2 linked regions of the Homo sapiens genome follow. The protein of the gene in region 2 purifies or fractionates together with the protein of the main gene of each other region. This does not show direct contact. Each region holds a gene or a part of one and is shown on either strand. Other genes may lie near its edges.

What was found.
Region 1: the proteins of FBXL5 (region 2) and CTNNA2 purify together in Homo sapiens (affinity purification with mass spectrometry; one large-scale study listed by BioGRID and IntAct). This does not show direct contact.

Annotation. Positions count from the first base shown.
Region 1 is NC_000002.12:79,876,442-79,880,097, forward strand, and holds part of CTNNA2 (catenin alpha-2), read left to right. Parts: intron 1-3,656. UniProt on the Homo sapiens protein: May function as a linker between cadherin adhesion receptors and the cytoskeleton to regulate cell-cell adhesion and differentiation in the nervous system. Required for proper regulation of cortical neuronal migration and neurite growth.
Region 2 is NC_000004.12:15,641,837-15,645,492, reverse strand, and holds part of FBXL5 (F-box/LRR-repeat protein 5), read left to right. Parts: intron 1-784; coding exon 785-1,000; intron 1,001-3,656.

The DNA.
Region 1 (3,656 bases), on a different chromosome or scaffold from region 2:
TTAAGAATGGATTATTTAGTCAGATTTTGACACAATTACATTATTCTAGTTATAATTTATTTTATAATCAAAAATAAACAACAAAACCTAAGTGAGGAGCTGGTTAAGAGTGAAAATATGAAGCACAGAGAGAAGGCCTGTGAACAGTCCAGGAACTTCAGCTGCTGCCACCTTCTGTCCAAGAGTGTGACAACTGCTGCTTCCCCATGCTGCCTTTTGTTTCCAGACGATTTTCATTAAAAGCACCTTTTATCCCCAATTAATGTAACAACCGATGCGTCAGTGCAACAGTGCAAAAGGCTTTCATTCATAAAAATCAAACTTGAGGTCATGTGGGGAAAATCTATTAGCAAAGTATGTCAACATGTTGAATGTTCAAGGTTTTTTTTTTGTTGTTGTTGTTTTTCCTGAAGTGATATCTCCTCATGCTGGACAAATAAGGCTTTGGAAATTTAACACATGAATATAACCATCAAACATGTTTTTTATAAAACATGATATATTTGAAACAGTTGGAAAAATTAAAATATAAAGTATAATATGGTAAATAAGTCACTAACTATATTTTATTAACTTTAAACTTCTATATTAACTAATTATATTACTTATAATATTAACTCAGTATATTATATATGAATGAAAAAATTATATTTTATATTAGCTAAGTATATTAATGAGGTAATATATTCTTATTAAATGTATACTGTTTCTCAAGCTATGAGAATTACATAAAGCGTTATCTAATGGTCAACATTTTACTTCTTGGAGGTCAACAAAAATCAAAATGTGGAGGCTGTCTGAATTGCAGTTTTGAAACAATAATTCCATTTGATGTGGTTCCCTAACAATTGTCATTTAACAAATGCAATTTAATTTCAGCACTTTCTCAAAAGTAGTAATGCTAGTAAATTAGTATTGAATTTACAGACTGTAATGTGATTCACCTGCTGTAGATTTTCCATCACTTCTGACATCAGCAAACCTAGACAGTAGTTAATGATACTTGAAATTTTCTCATTAAAATAATATACCGTTTCTCTTTATTTTATGACTAAATTATAAATTTCTGTTCCATAGTTGTATGATGAATACTGTTTTTTTAAAAATTTCTTAGGCATGCTAACTTGAAATTGATTTTGAATTCATGGACATCTGTCATGAGTCCTAAATGCTATTCTCAGATATTAAACAAATTGATATTTCATTGGGTGAAAAACTCACTCAAACTTCCTGTGGTTTACTTTTCTGGCAAAATCTCTTACTGATACTTGGTATAATACCTTTCTCATATAGTGAAAATTTAAATAAGTTTAACGTCTTTGAAATGCTGAAGTAAAAGGAACCATAAAAATGCAAAATATATTTTCATAGACAGCACAGCTAGTTTGCCCTAAAATTTATTTTTTAAAAATTTTACTTTAAGTTCCAGGATACACGTGCAAAATGTGCAGGTTTGTTATCTAGGTTTACATGTGCCATGGTGATTTGCTGCACCTATTGACCCATCCACTAAGTTCCCTTCCCTTGCCCCCACCCCGCAACAGTCCCTGGTGTGTGTTGTTCCCCTCCCTGTGTCCATGTGTTCTCATTGTTCAACTCCCACTTAGGAATGAGAACATGTGGTGTTTGGTGTTCTGTTCCTGTGTTAGTTTGCTGAGGATGATGGCTTCCAGCTTCATCCACGTCCCTGCAAAGGACATGATATTATTCCTTCTTATGGCTGCATAGTATTCCATGGTGTATATGTAGCACATTTTCTTTATCCAGTCTATCATTGGTGGGCATTTGGGTTGGTTCCATAACTTTGCCATTGTAAATAGTGCTGCAGTAAACATACATGTGGATGTGGCTTTACGGTAGAAAGACTTATATTCCTTTGTGTATATACCCAATAATGGGATTGCTGGGTCTAATGGTATTTCTGGTTCTAGATCTGTAAGGAATTGCCATACTGTCTTCCACAATAGCTGAACTAATTTACATTCCCACCAACAGTGTAAAAGCGTACCTGTTTCTCCACAGCCTTGCTAGCACCAATTGCATCTATAGCATCTATCTATTCTTGACTTTTTAATAATTGCCATTCTGACTGGCCTGAGATGGTATCTCATTGTGGTTTTGATTTGCATTTGTCTAATGATGAGTGATGTTGAGCTTTTTTTCATGTTTGTTGGCCATGTAAACATCTTCTTTTGAGAAGTGTCTGTTCATATCCTTTCTCCACTTTTGGATGGGGTTGTTTGTTTTTGTAAATTTAAGTTCCTTGTAAATTCTGAATATTAGACTTTTGTCAGATGAGTCGATTGTAAAAATTTTCTCCCATTCCGTAGATTGCCTGTTCACTCTGATGATTCTTTTGCTGTGCAGAAGCTCTTTAGTTTGGTTAGATACCATTTGTCAATTTTGGCTTTTGTTGCAATTGCTTTTGGTGTTTTCATCATGAAGTCTTTGCCCATGCCTATTTCCTGAATGGTATTGCCTAGGTTTTCTTCTAGGGTTTTTATGGTTTTGGGTTTTACATTTAAGTCTTTAATACATCTTGAGTTAGTTTTTGCATAAGGTGTAAGGAAGGGGTCCAGTTTTAGTTTTCTGCCTATGACTAGCCAGTTTTCCAGCACTATTTATTTAATAGGAGATTATTTCCCCATTGCTTGTTTTTGTCAGATTTGTCAAAGATCAGATGGTTGTAGATGTGTGGTGTTATTTCTGAGGTCTCTCTTCTGTTCCGTTGGTCTGTCTGTTTTGGGACCAGTACCATGCTGTTTTGGTTACTGTAGCCTTGTAGTTTAGTTTGAAGTCAGGTAGCATGATGCCTCTAGCTTTGTTCTTTTTGCTTAGGATTGTCTTGGCTATACGGGGTCTTCTTTAATTCCATATGAAATTTAAAGTAGTTTCTTTTTCTAATTCTGTGAAGAATGTCAATGGTAGTTTGATGGAAGTAGCATTTATTCTATAAATTACTCTGGGCAGTATGGCCATTTTCACAATGCTGATTCTTCCTATCCATGAGGTTGGAATGTTTTTCCATTTTTTTGTGTCCTCTCTTAATTCCTTGAGCAGTGGTTTGTAGTTCTCCTTGAAGAGGTCCTTCACATCCTTGTTAGCTGTATTCCTAGGTATTTTATTATCTTTGTAGCTATTGTGAATGGGAGTTCATTCATGATTTGGCTCTCTGCTTGTCTGTTATTGATGTAAAGGAATGCTTGTGATTTTTGCACATTGATTTTGTATCCTGAGACTTTGCTGAAGTTGCTTATCAGTTTAGGGAGTTTCTGGGCTGACATGATGGGGTTTTCTTGATATACAATCATGTTGTCTGCAAACAGAGAAAATTTGACTTCCTATCTTCCTATTTGAATATGCTTTATTTCTTTATCTTACCTGATTGCCCTGTCCAGAATTTCTAATACTATATTGAACAGGAGTGGTGAGAGAGGGCAGTTTTGTTATGTATTGGTTTCCAAAGGGAATGCTTCTTGCTTTTGCCCATTCAATATGATATTGGTTGTGGGTTTGTCATGAATAACTCTTGTTATTTTGAGGTATGTTCCATCAATACTTAGTTTATTGAGAGTTTTTAATGTGAAGCGATGTTGAATTTTATCAAAGGCCTTTTCTGCATCTATTGAGATAATCATGTGGTTTTGTCTTTGGTT
Region 2 (3,656 bases):
TCATGCCCCTGCACTCTAGCCTGGGCGACAAAGCAAGACTCTGTCTCAAAAAAAAAGAAAGAAAGAAAAGTAACTTACCCAGGGTTACACAGTTAAGTAATGGTAGAACTGGTATCCCATCCTAGAGAATGTGACTTTAAAACTGGTTCACTATGACTCTTAAAATGCATAATCCGCACTACTTTTTATAGAAGATAGTTAATTCTGTTATGTATAGTAGGAATAATTTTGTTTTAGGAGCTTCTATGTCATCTGTTTTGATGCTCTGTCATCAGACCGTCATTCCTGCTGATAATAGGCAATAAGACAGCTTAGATTATGTTCCATTTTAGGAATACTAGATACTTTAGAAAGCAAGTCTAGGAGGTATGGTGTTAGTAGCTTTTCCCCTTTCATCTACCCGTCTGTTGTATTTAACCTAATCAAGTTTCCCTCTTTAAAATTTCTGCCTGCCTGTATTTAGCATACATATAGAGTAATGAAATTTTAGGTTTAGAAGGGGCCTGGTTTAATCTCTTCTCTTTAAAGAAACCGTGATTTGTGCACATATCATTTTTCTGTGTCACCAGGCCCTCCAGAATGCAAACCAACATCTTCCTGGCCTAGTGCACTTTTTATTATACCATTATAACTTGTTAATTTATGAATTTCTTTTATTTGTACTTTAACCAAGTGTAAGGGAAGTATGCTGTGTGCAAAAGTGAATAGGGATGTATTTGAATATTTTTTATTTGTGCATATTTGCACGTATTTATTACACTTTTCTTTTTAAATTTTTATTCAGCTTTCTAAAACCAATTTTTCCAACAACAACGATTTCCGTGCTCTTCTGCAGTCTTTGTATGCTACTTTCAAGGAGTTCAAAATGCATGAGCAGATTGAAAATGAATACATTATTGGTTTGCTTCAACAACGCAGCCAGACCATTTATAATGTACATTCTGACAATAAACTCTCCGAGATGCTTAGCCTCTTTGAAAAGGGACTGAAGAATGTTAAGGTAAGTTGCAAAAATGGATATTCAACTGTCAAAACTTGTGCCATCTTCTGGTATATCATTGGCAAAACTTGTCACTGTTTTATAGTAAATGATGTAATGTTGAAAAAAATTATTTTGTCACTTGTTAAAGATGGCAAGGAAGACTATTTAAAAAGAACTACTGCAGTGGGGAGTTTGCAGTAGTGGAGAGAGATCAGTCCCGACGGTGAATACAGTAAGGACAAGTAGGGATTTATATCCAAGGGGCAAAGTGGGAAGAGTGGATGGAAAACTACTGAGGAAACATCAAGGCCAAGGGGATTCTTGCTAGACTAACTATAAAATTCTTGCTGAAGGCAAGAGGATAGTAACATATTGAAGGATCAGTAGTTTGATTAGATGTAGATGCAGATCAGATACTAAGGCTGAGAGATTTTTCACTAAACCAATTCAGCAGGATTTTTGCTGAAACTGGACTAAGCCGAACAAGAACAGAGTATAAGGTCAGGCCTAAGTTGAGAAGAGGGCCCAGAGGAGCCTGACTCAGGTTTGGTGAGAGTCTTCATCAGTTACCTCTTTATTACTGTTTAATAAAATTTTATAATGAATGCTACTCACCAAGTCTGAAAGCTGTTTTTGTAAGTCGAAGTTTTAATTATAAAATTTTTACATTCTGTTAACATTTGCTGAATTCTTAAAGGAAAGCTATCCAGTTAATGGTGACCAAAGGTATAATTATTACTTAGAATGAATAAACACTTTAATTTTATAAATTTTTACTTGTTTTAGAATTGAATACCAGCCAGGTGCAGTGTGCAGTGGCTCACATCTGTAGTCCCAGCACTCTGGGAGGCCGAGGCTAGTGGATCACTTGAGGTCAGGAGTTCTAGACCAGCCTGGCCAACATAGTGAAAACCTGTCTTTACTAAAAATATAAAAATTTAGCCAGACATAGTGGCAGGCGCCTGTAATCCCAGCTGAGGCAGGAGAGTTGCTTGAACCTGGGAGGCGGAGGTTGCAGTGAGCTAAAGATATTACTGGGTATAGTTTAGGATAATGATGTAGAGAGACTTTCTTCTTAATTACATTTACATATTATAGGATTTTGAAATTTGATCTTAGTTTATTTCCCTTCTGGCTTGGTGAAGCGTAAGCTTAAGTTACAACTCTGTTAAGCCACCATGTGCTCCTCACCTGGAGATTTATGTTCTGGAAAGGCTGTTCTACAGCTTAGGGAGGATGGATTAAAGATAAAGAAAAGACTAAAGGAGGAAGACCATTATTAAAAAATTATTCTAATAGTTTCTGGAAGAATACTTAGTAGCTACTTGGTGGGGAGGTGTGGGAGGTTTGGTTGGGGTAGGGTACTAGATAGTAATATTAATAGAAGGGAGATTTACTTTTTTATTGAATATTCTTTCGTATTCTTTGAATTTTGTATCATATTATGTATTGCCACATGAATACACCTTCGACAAATCTGAACTAAAGTCATGACTAGTAGAAATAAAGGGGAGGGGATCAGACTTGAGAATTATGTAGGAAATAAAATTGATAGAATGTAGTGATTATACTTAAAGGGAGGATGAAAGAAGAGAAAAGAAATAAAAATGAGGATTCAGCCTGACTTTCTAGAGTATATAGAAGAGGGTCAGGAAATAAAAAAGATTCATTCTTGACAGATTAGGTTTGAACTGCTTGTGTAATCCAGATGGGCATTTATGAATAGGAGGTGGTAAAGATGGATTTCATGGTCAGAAGAGTGACCCAGTATGAAAAAGCAAATTTGATAGTTATTATTAGCATATAAGTAGGAATGGAAGCCATGTGGATATGCTTAGGGAAAATGTGTAAAGTCGTAAGAGAACAGGACATTAGACTGAATATTGGGAAGCAGTTGAATAAATTAGTTCTGGAAAAAGAGACCAGAGAAGACTTAACAGAGATAAAATATTTTCATATTTTAAAAGTTTTCATAGGCTGGGCATGGTGGCTCATCCGTGTAATTCTAGCATTTTGGGAGGCTGAGGCGGGCAGATCACTTGAGGTCAGGAGTTCGAGACCAGCCTGGCCAATGTGGTGAAACCCCATCTCTACTAAAAATACCAAAAAAATTAGCTGGGAGTTGTGATGGGCACCTGTAGTCCCAGCTACTCAGGAGACTGAGGTGGGAGAATCGCATGAACCTGAGGTTGCAGTGAGCTAAGATTGCACCACTGCATTCCAGCCTGGGCAACAGAGCAAGGCTTGTCTTAAAAAAAAAAAAAAAAGTTTTCATTATTTTATAAATTTTCCACATGCTTTGAGAGGGCTGATATAGAAGTGGGGAAATGTGATTTTAGGTTATGAGGAAGAAGTTTATAGCTCCTTAGAATTGCCCAGAATTAGAATGAGTTACTTCAAGATATAGTGAGCACCTTGCCTTTAGAAGTGTTGATATTGATATATATGACCTTACATCAAATAATTTTTTCTTTTTTTTTTTTAAGACAGAGTCTTGCTCTGTCACCCATGCTGAGGTGCAGTGGTGCAATCTCGGCTCACCGCAACCTCCTTCTTCCAGGTTCAAGCAGTTCTCCGTGCCTCAGCCTCTCGAGTAGCTGGGATTACAGGTGCCCATCATTACACCTGGCTGATTTTTGTATTTTTAGTAGAGACAGGGTTTCGCCGCGTTGGG